Linked DNA regions of Homo sapiens: regions 2 and 3 are each reported to be linked to region 1. Evidence: microRNA targets listed by miRTarBase, many of them from high-throughput screens and not tested one by one. Region 1 holds a microRNA gene; each other region holds the end of a gene's coding sequence. Distances are from middle to middle.
What was found. Region 1 holds the annotated microRNA hsa-miR-545-3p (UCAGCAAACAUUUAUUGUGUGC, at 1,208-1,229, shown strand). A microRNA usually pairs through its seed, bases 2 to 8, with sites in the 3' UTR of a target mRNA and lowers its output. Matches are read on the target gene's strand: a 7mer-m8 pairs with bases 2 to 8, a 7mer-A1 pairs with bases 2 to 7 and ends in A, and an 8mer does both.

Region 1 (4,466 bases):
GTGTATAGGCAAGAGCAGTGAAATAACTTTAGGGGAAAATAGTATGTTAAGCTTATTAAATAACAGCCTCATAGAGACATTGGGTCCCAAAACAGTGATCTCAGTATAACTGTCAACAACTTGCTGATGTTATCAGCCCTATTTGCTGGTCAGAGACAAAAAAGCCAGTAAAAACCTAGGTATTATTAAGAAAGGTATGAGGCACAGAAAAATGCCATCTTATCTTTGTATAAAACCATCTGAACCAAATAACTATTACAGTAATAATCTTGCCTCAAGGAGTCTGTTACTATCACTCACATGATTTTGAAAAGGGAGTGGGCAGAGTGTGTTATCTCTCTGTTTCATTTTTCTTGTTTATAATACATAGGTGAATTAGATATTCTCAAAGGTCTTGGAGGGGTCTAATTCTGGTTTCCTGAAACTGAATGTTATTTCTAGTTTAGAGAATCTGTTTAATTATGTTTATTAAATAAACTTTTCTAACTTATTCCTACTCTGATCTGTATATTATCTATTTTGTATTTAATAACATTCTAACTTTTTTTTTCCAGTGAAGGATGAGGATTATTGGATTTAGAAGTGCCAAATGAGCTATTACTTACTGCTTTTTGCTATCCGGTTACACTGGGTTAATCCAGTTAGTTGTAAGCTCCCATTTTTCAGCATTTTGCTAGCTGTAGATATTAAACCAGGCTCATGTGGGTAGTAGGGTGGGGAGGTTAAGAGGAGTATAAGCAAAAAGGAAAAAAAAAAGCTCATATTTTAGAGGAGGGGATTGAGAAGTTCCTTTATTGGAAGTCTGTGCATGGAAGTCCCATTTTACATCATGCCAGTGTCTAGTTCCCAATTCCGTCTATGGCCACGGGTTAGGGAAAGCCTGAATATTTGAAATAACCGAAAAGCATTTAACCTTTGATTTCTATAATTTGTTCCTCACCTCTCTTGATGTTACAGCCAGCAGCAGCCTGGAGCAGCACCCCCTGGGAAGAAATTTTACATCGGCCATTATAATACAACCTGATAAGTGTTATAGCACTTATCAGATTGTATTGTAATTGTCTGTGTATATGCCTGTCTCTCTTCCTGTTATCAGTTAGACTGTGAGCTCCTTGAGGGCAAGGAAGGTGTCTTCATCTCCAGAGCCCAGCCTGGCACATTAGTAGGCCTCAGTAAATGTTTATTAGATGAATAAATGAATGACTCATCAGCAAACATTTATTGTGTGCCTGCTAAAGTGAGCTCCACAGGCTCTGGATTGTCAGCTGTTTCTTCAAAAAGCATGTGGTCAGAAATTTGATATTTCTGTATATATCTTCCTAAGAGTTTCTCATGAGACAATGCCATTTTTGTGTTTGGATTTCAGTCCTTGATATTTACAGATGTTGCAACTGTTGCTATTGCTGACACTTGCTTTCTTGGTGGGACTTGAGTGATAACTGTTAGATTGGGGCCTCATCCTCAGGGCCCAGGTAATCATCCAAATAGTATTCTTAGATAGGACTTTGCATTTTTCTTTCTTTTTTTTTTTTTTTTAAGGGACAGGTTCTCACTCTGTTGCCCAGGCTGGAGTGCAATGGTGCGAACACGGGTCACTGCAGCCTCGAACTCCTAGGCTCAGGTGATCTTCCACCTCAGCATTCTGAGTTAGGACTATAGGTGTGTGCCACCACCCCTGGCTAATGTTTGTATTTTTCGTAGAGAAGGGGTCTCGTTATGGTGCCCAGGCTGTTCTTGAACTCCTGGACTCAAGCGATCTACCTCCCTCAGCCTCCCAGAGTGCTGGGATTACAGGTGTGAGCCACTGCACCCAACCAGACTCCATATTCTAAACCAAGGGTGGGCAAACTTTATTGCCCATGGGCTACCTGTTTTTGTAAATACCATTCTATATTGGAACACAGCCATGTTCATTCATCGATGTTTTACCTGGGGCCGCTTTTGCGGCCCAGTGGCACAATTAAGTAGCTATTAGGTTGGTGCAAAAGTAGTTGCTGTTTTTGCCATTAAATATATTGGAGACATTGTGGCCCACAAAGCCTTTGTAGAAAAAGATCTGTGCCCACTCTGGATCATCACTCGACAGTGATGGTTTCATTTCTCATTCCATTCACCAGACCAGAAATTCATATTTATTTACTTCATTTGTCATTGCTTGTGACAAGTCTTTTTCCTCTTTTACAGATAAGCCAGCTAAGACATGTTTTAAAGTAGAAGATTATAAGACCTCCCCCAGGGTCCTGCAGTCAGTCAGTTATACCCTGCCCTTCAACATCAAGCTTTGAACCTCTACTCTAGAAATACCTTTTATTATATTCAAACTTGAAGCACGTGGACATAGCATGCTTTGGTGCCTTCGTCCTTGCCCCCCTCCTTCCTACACAGTTCTTTGCAATGAGAATATGGGAAATAAGGACTTAATGTGAGATAAGGCAGAAAGGTAAGCTGAGGCAAATGTTTAGAGGGTCCCTAACACTAATTTTTAAATGAAGAAGTGGGGTGTCTGAAATACTCATTTATTTAGATGTATACAGATAGTGAGCCTAGACTTCCAAGAGCTTAGAGCCCCTCCCCTTGTGCCTCCCCAACTTTACATGTACTATCTTGGTAACCTGCCTATGAATACATGTTGATTCATTTCACTTCATTAAAAAGTCGGAGAGCTCAAAGTCATATTTGAGAAAGCTAAATCTAAAACAAAATGGAGGAAACACTGAATAGGTTCATCTCGTTGGATAGGATCATCCTAGGAATAAAATATAATAGAAGGAAAGGTCTTACAGCCATATTTTTAAAGCTGCTTGCTGGATTTTTCCCAAAATTGTATTGTGAAAGTTGTCAAACATACATACAGAAAAGTTGAAAGAATTGTACGGTGAAAAGCCATGTACCCAACACCTAGATTTTATAATTAACATTTAACTATACAGTCATGTGTTGCTTAAAGACAGGATATGTTCTGAGTAATGGATCATTAAGTCATTTTGTTGTTGTGTGAACATCATAGGGGAGTGTACTTATACAAACCTAGATGGTATAGCTTACTACACACCTAGGCTATATGGTATAGCCTATTCCTCCTAGGCTACAAACCTGTACAGCATGTTGCTGTATTGAATACTGTAGGCATTTGGAATACAGTGGTAAGTATTTGTATATCCAAACATATCTAACATAGAAAAGGTACAGTAAAAACGTGGTGTTATTATCTTATGGGACCACCATTGTATATGCGCCTGTGACTGAAATGTTACTATAAGATTCAGGACTGTTTGTGTTATCACAGTAACTCATCTTTGTTGAATAGGTTTTAAAAATCTGTCTGTCTTCTGTGTTAATGTCATCTGTATCTGACCCATCATGGTGCTGAAAAAGCTTCTTTTCATTCTTATTTTTGTCTTCTAAGTCAGCATGAATACCAGCACAGCCCAACTATGTGTAAGCAGATCTGTGCAGGAATGAGAGTCCCAGGGAGAGAATCCACGTTGTTTCTGAAAGAAAATGGCTATAGCTCACTGTTGTTTACTGGAAATAGTAGGGGGAAGGAAAGATGGAAGTCCAGGTCCAGTGTCATATACTGCCCTGCACCTTACTCACTTCTCTGCCTTTAGGGTAGGTGGTTTTCTGAGCAGCTTCTGCTTGGTTCTCTCCTTTAAGGCTTGCTAAAGGAGAAACAACAATGTCATATTGAAATGCCAATGAGGCAATATTTAGCATTAGAATAACTTTGGAATTCTAGCAAATGGAATTTTAATTTGGGCTACTGTCTAATAGTATTCTTTGAGCCTTTTCTGTTAGCAACAGCTGCAGTTTCAATTAGGAAGCACCATGAAATTTTGTTTATCTTTATCCATGGACATGATAATGGTAAATGTTACCTGTTTGTGTCTCTCTCCTTTGATTTAAACTCAAGGGTAGAGATGTGTTTTACTGATCTTTGCAAATCTCTTACACTGTAAGATTTGTATTCATTTATAGGGATATACCCCCAAATATATGTTTAACATTATTTAAAAAAAGATTTAGATATGGGCATATTCACGGTGTTCATAACAGTAAATAATGGAAAAACTTACCTAGTCATGAATAGGAACTTGGTTAAATACATTTTGGTGTATTCATGTAATGGGACAGCATAGCCATTAAAAATAAAAATAGTCTTGAAGATAAATATTTGACTTGGAAAGAAGTATACAGTATATTAATTGAAAAAGGGCTAAAGGGCAATAGTATAGTTTCATCTAATCATTGTAAAATAAGAATTCATGTTTGTGTATGTACATGGAAGTTGTTGGATGAACATACCCCAAGTGTTAAACTTTTCTGGGATTCTGGCTGATTTTTTTTTTTGAGACGGAGTCTTGCTCTGTCGCCAGGCTGGAGTGCAGTGGCGTGATCTCGGCTCACTGCAACCTCCGACTCCCTGGTTCAAGCAATTCTCTTGCTTCAGCCTCCCGAGTGGGATT
Region 2 (3,000 bases), 77 Mb from region 1:
ATTTTCCTTACTCTTTAAGGAAAAAAAAATGTTAACAGAGGATTTGATAGTCCTACTAATGTGACTTGAAGGACACTTGAACACCCACTAACTTTTAAATTCGAATGGCTAAGAACCAAATTCATATATGGAAACACTTCAGATATATATGATAGCAGCACTGTCTTACTTGATTTCAATTCCTGTCCTCTTACCTGAGATGAGGACTGCATGTTTCTACTTTGTGTTAAAACAGCCGCATACTCATTTGAAATGTGTCCCTGTTCCTCTAGGATGTTGCTGACTATAAGTCGAAAGGAAAGTTTGATGGTGCAAAGGGTCCTGCTAAAGTTGCCCGGAAAAAGGTGGAAGAGGAAGATGAAGAAGAGGAGGAGGAAGAAGAGGAGGAGGAGGAGGAGGAGGATGAATAAAGAAACTGTTTATCTGTCTCCTTGTGAATACTTAGAGTAGGGGAGCGCCGTAATTGACACATCTCTTATTTGAGAAGTGTCTGTTGCCCTCATTAGGTTTAATTACAAAATTTGATCACGATCATATTGTAGTCTCTCAAAGTGCTCTAGAAATTGTCAGTGGTTTACATGAAGTGGCCATGGGTGTCTGGAGCACCCTGAAACTGTATCAAAGTTGTACATATTTCCAAACATTTTTAAAATGAAAAGGCACTCTCGTGTTCTCCTCACTCTGTGCACTTTGCTGTTGGTGTGACAAGGCATTTAAAGATGTTTCTGGCATTTTCTTTTTATTTGTAAGGTGGTGGTAACTATGGTTATTGGCTAGAAATCCTGAGTTTTCAACTGTATATATCTATAGTTTGTAAAAAGAACAAAACAACCGAGACAAACCCTTGATGCTCCTTGCTCGGCGTTGAGGCTGTGGGGAAGATGCCTTTTGGGAGAGGCTGTAGCTCAGGGCGTGCACTGTGAGGCTGGACCTGTTGACTCTGCAGGGGGCATCCATTTAGCTTCAGGTTGTCTTGTTTCTGTATATAGTGACATAGCATTCTGCTGCCATCTTAGCTGTGGACAAAGGGGGGTCAGCTGGCATGAGAATATTTTTTTTTTTTAAGTGCGGTAGTTTTTAAACTGTTTGTTTTTAAACAAACTATAGAACTCTTCATTGTCAGCAAAGCAAAGAGTCACTGCATCAATGAAAGTTCAAGAACCTCCTGTACTTAAACACGATTCGCAACGTTCTGTTATTTTTTTTGTATGTTTAGAATGCTGAAATGTTTTTGAAGTTAAATAAACAGTATTACATTTTTAAAACTCTTCTCTATTATAACAGTCAATTTCTGACTCACAGCAGTGAACAAACCCCCACTCCATTGTATTTGGAGACTGGCCTCCCTATAAATGTGGTAGCTTCTTTTATTACTCAGTGGCCAGCTCACTTAGGGCTGAGATGAAGGAGAGGGCTACTTGAAGCTACTGTGTGATTTTGTTTGTGTCTGAGTGGCATTCAGATGAAGTCTGGAGGAGTTAGGAGAACGACATAGGCAAGGTTCAGCAGCCTTCCAAGGTATAGGAAGGTGGGTGATTAGGACTGAGGCTATCTAGGTTTAACTTTTGTCCCACCTCCACCCCCTATTTTGTGGGGCCAAATGCATTGCTAAACAGCAATTTCAGAGTGTATGGTGTGTCAAAAATTAAGGCCTTATTGTTTTTCTCTTTCACCCCTACCCCCCGTGCTCCTGGCACATATCACATTATTTGTGGTGCCCAACATTTGGGGTCTTGAGCCTGCTGCTGGTCTCCTGGATGCCAGTGAGGGTATGTGGGATGGGGTGGTGGGGTAGGGGACGGTATCCTTTTTTTGCTCCTACTTGGAAACACCAAACACCCCAAGGAAGATGATAGGCTCCATCTTGGGCCACCTGAGCTATAGGGCAGGCTAATGGAATCAACCATTTCTGAGCACTAAATGTATCATGAAAAGTTGAATGGCCTGCTCATAAGTTTAGCTCATTCACTGGAAATGTAGATTGATGTTCAATGTTAAACTGGAAGGAGCTTGGTTTGTGTGTCAGTGGTTATATTAGTGGGTAGTGTAACATTTTATCCAGGTTGGGGTGAGGGGAGATGGCCACAGTAGCAAGTGGTGACACTAAATACCATTTTGAAGGCTGATGTGTATATACATCATTACTGTCCGTAGCAATGAAGGATACAGTACTGTGTTGTGGGTGAGTGTTGCTATTGCCCAGCATTAATATTTGGGTGTGTATGTTTGAGGCTATGAAACACGCAGGAGTGTTTTTGTGCTATTAATTTTAAGAGAAAGCAGCTTTTTCTTAAAATTCACTGTTGAGAAACTTGCATGTCTGGAGGCGGTGTCCTCTCCGCCCTGTCGGGTCCTGGATGAGTACGAGTTATGGTCACGGTCACAGCCTGATCTCTTATGTGTTCATAGCCATTCGCTCTCCCATCAGAACTGTTTGTCCTGAATGTGTTCCTCTAGTTCTAGAAAATGACCACTAATTTAAAAAACTCGGTTGTGAGGTTTGCCCAGAGGCACTTGTTCCAGAATTTCCCCTCCTGCTTCAGCCATGTCCTTGTCACTTGGCATTCTAAGCTAAAGCTTTAGCTTCCCAATTCGTGATGTGCTAGGCCAAGATTCGGGAGCTGTTGCCAGCCTCGTCAAATATGGAAGAGAAACAACCTGCGGTCAAAAGGGAGTGATTTGTTAAGTGGTGCGCGTCTATCTCATAACTAGATGTACCAACCAGGGAAGGGCCAAGGATGGAAAGGGGTAACTTTTGTGCTTCCAAAGTAGCTAAGCAGAAGTGGGGGAGCAGTTTAGCCAGATGATCTTTGATTAGGCAAACATTGAGTTTTAAAGAGGCTGTCAAGTTGAGGCCACTTGGTCCATTAGCTGGGGCAGCAAGATCACTACTCAACGTTTTCACACTGTGGCAAGATTGCTCTTCTAGTGGAATAATGCCCTAGTTTCTCTGAGATGATGTAAGTGGCATGATGTTACCTAAGGCTTAGGCTTAGCTTG
Region 3 (3,000 bases), not on the chromosome of region 1:
GTTTTTAAATGATATAAAACATTTATATAGACAATAAGCAACTTAGAAAAAATAAGATTTTGCATTTCTAAAATTATAATTGAAAACAAAATCTGACATTCTCTGCTAAGTCTTATCTGAATGCTTCAGATAATGGTAGTGTAGTCAGTGACTAAAATATTTTTATCAAATTTCCTCTCTGTAGACGCCTGCAGGTATTGACGTCTGTCAGATCTCGTCACATTGGCTGGTGCCGCAGCTGTTGGAGAGTATTTTTCTTTATGATTATTTTAGAAAAAAAATTTTCTTTTCCACAATGTGGTTCTCTTAGAAGAATGACGTATCTTCTTTTCCTCAGCGAGTTGGACACATTGTGCCCAGGGCAGCCCTGTCCTTGGGCAGCGACCGCACACCAAAGCTGGGAGGAGGCTGGTCCGGGGGGCCTGGGCAGAAGACAGTGATTTGCAGGGGTGGCTCCCAGACACCCTGCCCAGGGATGGGCTGGGCACCACCTGGGGGCGGAGCGTGAGCTCCAGACGAGCTCCTGCGTGCGCGTGTGAGTGTGTCTGCGCCCAGCCATGTGACCCCGCTCGTCCCGTCTGAAGGACTCTCCTAGGAGGCCAGGTTGCCCCTCCAGACCGCTCCCAACGTCAGGGGGAAGGAAACGTTGACTTTCACTGCACTTTGATTCGTCTCTAAACCATTTGCTGGGGATTCCTGAGAGCAGAGCTCCCAGCGGGCCCTGCCTCCCAAGTCCCGCCGCAAGGCTACCTCGGGTGTGTGGATGTGCGAGGGCCTCCCCCGCTTGCGAAGGGGACATGCGTGCTGGAACCTGTCGGAACTCCATGCCTTCCTCGCCTGCTCACCTGCTCGACGCTGGAATCGGGACAGGTGCAAAGGGACGCAGACGTCTGGGACAGCTAAGGCCCGTGTCACCGGAGGGCTCCGCACAGTCGTTCTGGTTTCAACGAATAAGCAAAACTCGGGCAAGTACTGCAGCTATTTGGAAATGTTTTCCAAACCACAGTCTCTTTAGAACTAAGCCTATTTGAAACGGTCGGTGTAGGCTTACTGAGATCAGGAGACAGGGAGGCCCCGCACATCACACAGATAAAGTCAGACAATTGTAATTAATACTTTTGCTGCCTCAAGTTGTTTTTTAAATAAAGTACTTTGAAATGCATGAGAATCATGCTGCAATATGATCATTCTAGAGCAAATATATATATACACGTATATATATTTCAAGATGAAACTAAAGCAGTTTTTAAATAAATTACTTGAATTTTCTGTGTATTTAAAGGAACGACTGTTTAATGTACTTGATGGGCCTCTGGTCTTGCCGTGTCTCCTGCCGCTGGTGGCACTTTGTAGATTGTGTGTTTGTGTCCGGGTGGCAGTTGGGTACCTGCTCACGCACGGTGTGTCTGCCAGGCCACGGTGTCCCAGGATCGCAGAGGGCTGACTTTCAAGACTTCAAGAACATTTTCTGGATGTGTGGAAACTTGAGAATGGCCTTGTGAATCTCGTGCTTGGACAGGGCAAGTCCGACTACTGAAAGTGCTGCCAGCTTTGCTGCGAGCCCTCCGGCCAGCGGGAGCCCCGTGGGCTGGGCACTGTGGCCCTTCTTCTCTGGGGGACGGCACCCCTGGCTTCCTCACCTCGGCCGGGCGTCCGTGGCAGCTCACTCTATGCAACTTGATCCTCTAGCGGCTTTAAGACTGTAGATCCCCTCTCTGAGACCTGGCTGTACTTGTCAGGATCTCGAGGCGCAGCTCCCGTCTTAGCTGGTTTCTCCGGCTTCTCGTCCTGACGACTATAAAACAGTTGGAGGCAAGAAAGCAGCGGATGTGGGGTGGCAGTGGCCTGACCCGAATCAAGATCCGACCCAAACCACACCAAATGTGGGTTCATCTGGGGGCCACCCCTTGCCTGAGGCTTCCCACCCTCATCTGAAGGCCCAGGGGCCGGATCCAGGGCTCACCAAAGCCGATTCCTCGCCAGCTGGGAGTGCAGAAGTCTCAGGGCCTGGCTGCGACTTGATTTTTAGGAGGAAGAGGGGCTTCGCAACCCCCCTCTGAATAGTGTGTTAACCCTTGAGATCCCAGCCTCGACTAATCTGAAGTAAGGACAACAAAGGCCATTCAGTGCCCTCCACATGGCCTTGCCACAGTCACTGTCAGGGTATGAACGTGCCGGAAGCCAGTGCCAGCCAGGGACAGGCGTGACTGTTGTGTGCTCCTCGGTGACAGGAGTCGGTGGCTGCACACTTTGTAGACTCGTCAAGCTGTCAGCACTTCAGGTGTTTGCAAGCAAAGCCCTTCTTAGTGTGCAGGTCAGTGTGCAGAGCCCAAATGAGGGGACCGCAGGGGCTGGGGTCCAGGGTCAGTAGAGTCGGTTTCTGGAGCTGCCTTCCTGGGAGGCAGGTGTGGGTGACCGGGGCTCTGGCGGTGCGTGTGGGCCCGGCCTGGCCACAGCGGGGACCAGGTCACGACATCTTTGGCCTCAACCCCTCCCCTGCACTGAGATTATTTCCAGATTGCACTCACTTGAAACCGTCCGTGTCGTCACCTTGTGTCTTAAGGGAAGCCGAGAAGAAGGGCAGACGGGCAGGCTGTCTTGTCTGCAAAGCGCCATTGCGCCCGCAGCTTGTGTGGGTCAGGCTGCAGCTCGGGTGTCTGTGGCTTCTAACCTTGTACCTCAGACGGATGCAGTAACAAGGCGGGGCTGGGGACGCCGGTCAGTGTCAAAGGGGAGGTGCTCTGGCTGATAGCCTTGCCCGAGAGGGACGAGGAGGCCGTGCGGGTGCCCCCTGGGGAAGCTGGCCAGCCATCCAGTGCTGAGGACGCAGCTGGAGTTGGGCTCGTGGCACCCTTGGGGTGTGGGCTGTGCAGGCTGGTGGCCTGGGTGCCTCTGCACACTGAGTGGAGTGTCAGGCAGGGTGTGTCGGTTGGTCGAGTCTTGTGTAATGTGCGCAGACCAGTTACCAAACTAGGATAATGTTGGTCTCATTTGTGGTGG

Region 2: miRTarBase lists HMGB3 as a target of hsa-miR-545-3p. Seed matches in the 3' UTR shown: 7mer-m8 at 690-696.
Region 3: the mRNA of SLC45A4 is a reported target of hsa-miR-545-3p. Seed matches in the 3' UTR shown: 7mer-m8 at 683-689, 7mer-m8 at 1,118-1,124 and 7mer-m8 at 1,551-1,557.

What each region holds. Positions count from the first base shown.
Region 1 is chrX:74,283,889-74,288,354 of GRCh38, reverse strand. It overlaps MIR545 (microRNA 545), which reads left to right and starts at 1,146; the gene lies at 1,146-1,251. All of the region lies in intron 1 of FTX (FTX transcript, XIST regulator), which reads left to right. MIR374A (microRNA 374a) reads left to right here and starts at 998; the gene lies at 998-1,069. LOC124905199 (a long non-coding RNA gene) reads left to right here. Exons shown (of 2, transcript XR_007068266.1): 2 at 1-490. RefSeq lists an enhancer at 4,036-4,466.
Region 2 is chrX:150,987,505-150,990,504 of GRCh38, forward strand. HMGB3 (high mobility group box 3) reads left to right here. Exons shown (of 5, transcript NM_005342.4): 5 at 273-3,000. The coding sequence ends at 410. Among named protein-coding and RNA genes, the nearest start is that of HMGB3, 5.7 kb to the left of the region's middle.
Region 3 is chr8:141,208,882-141,211,881 of GRCh38, reverse strand. It overlaps SLC45A4 (solute carrier family 45 member 4), which reads left to right. Exons shown (of 9, transcript NM_001286646.2): 9 at 185-3,000. The coding sequence ends at 310. Among named protein-coding and RNA genes, the nearest start is that of SLC45A4-AS1, 44 kb to the left of the region's middle. RefSeq lists an enhancer at 2,551-3,000.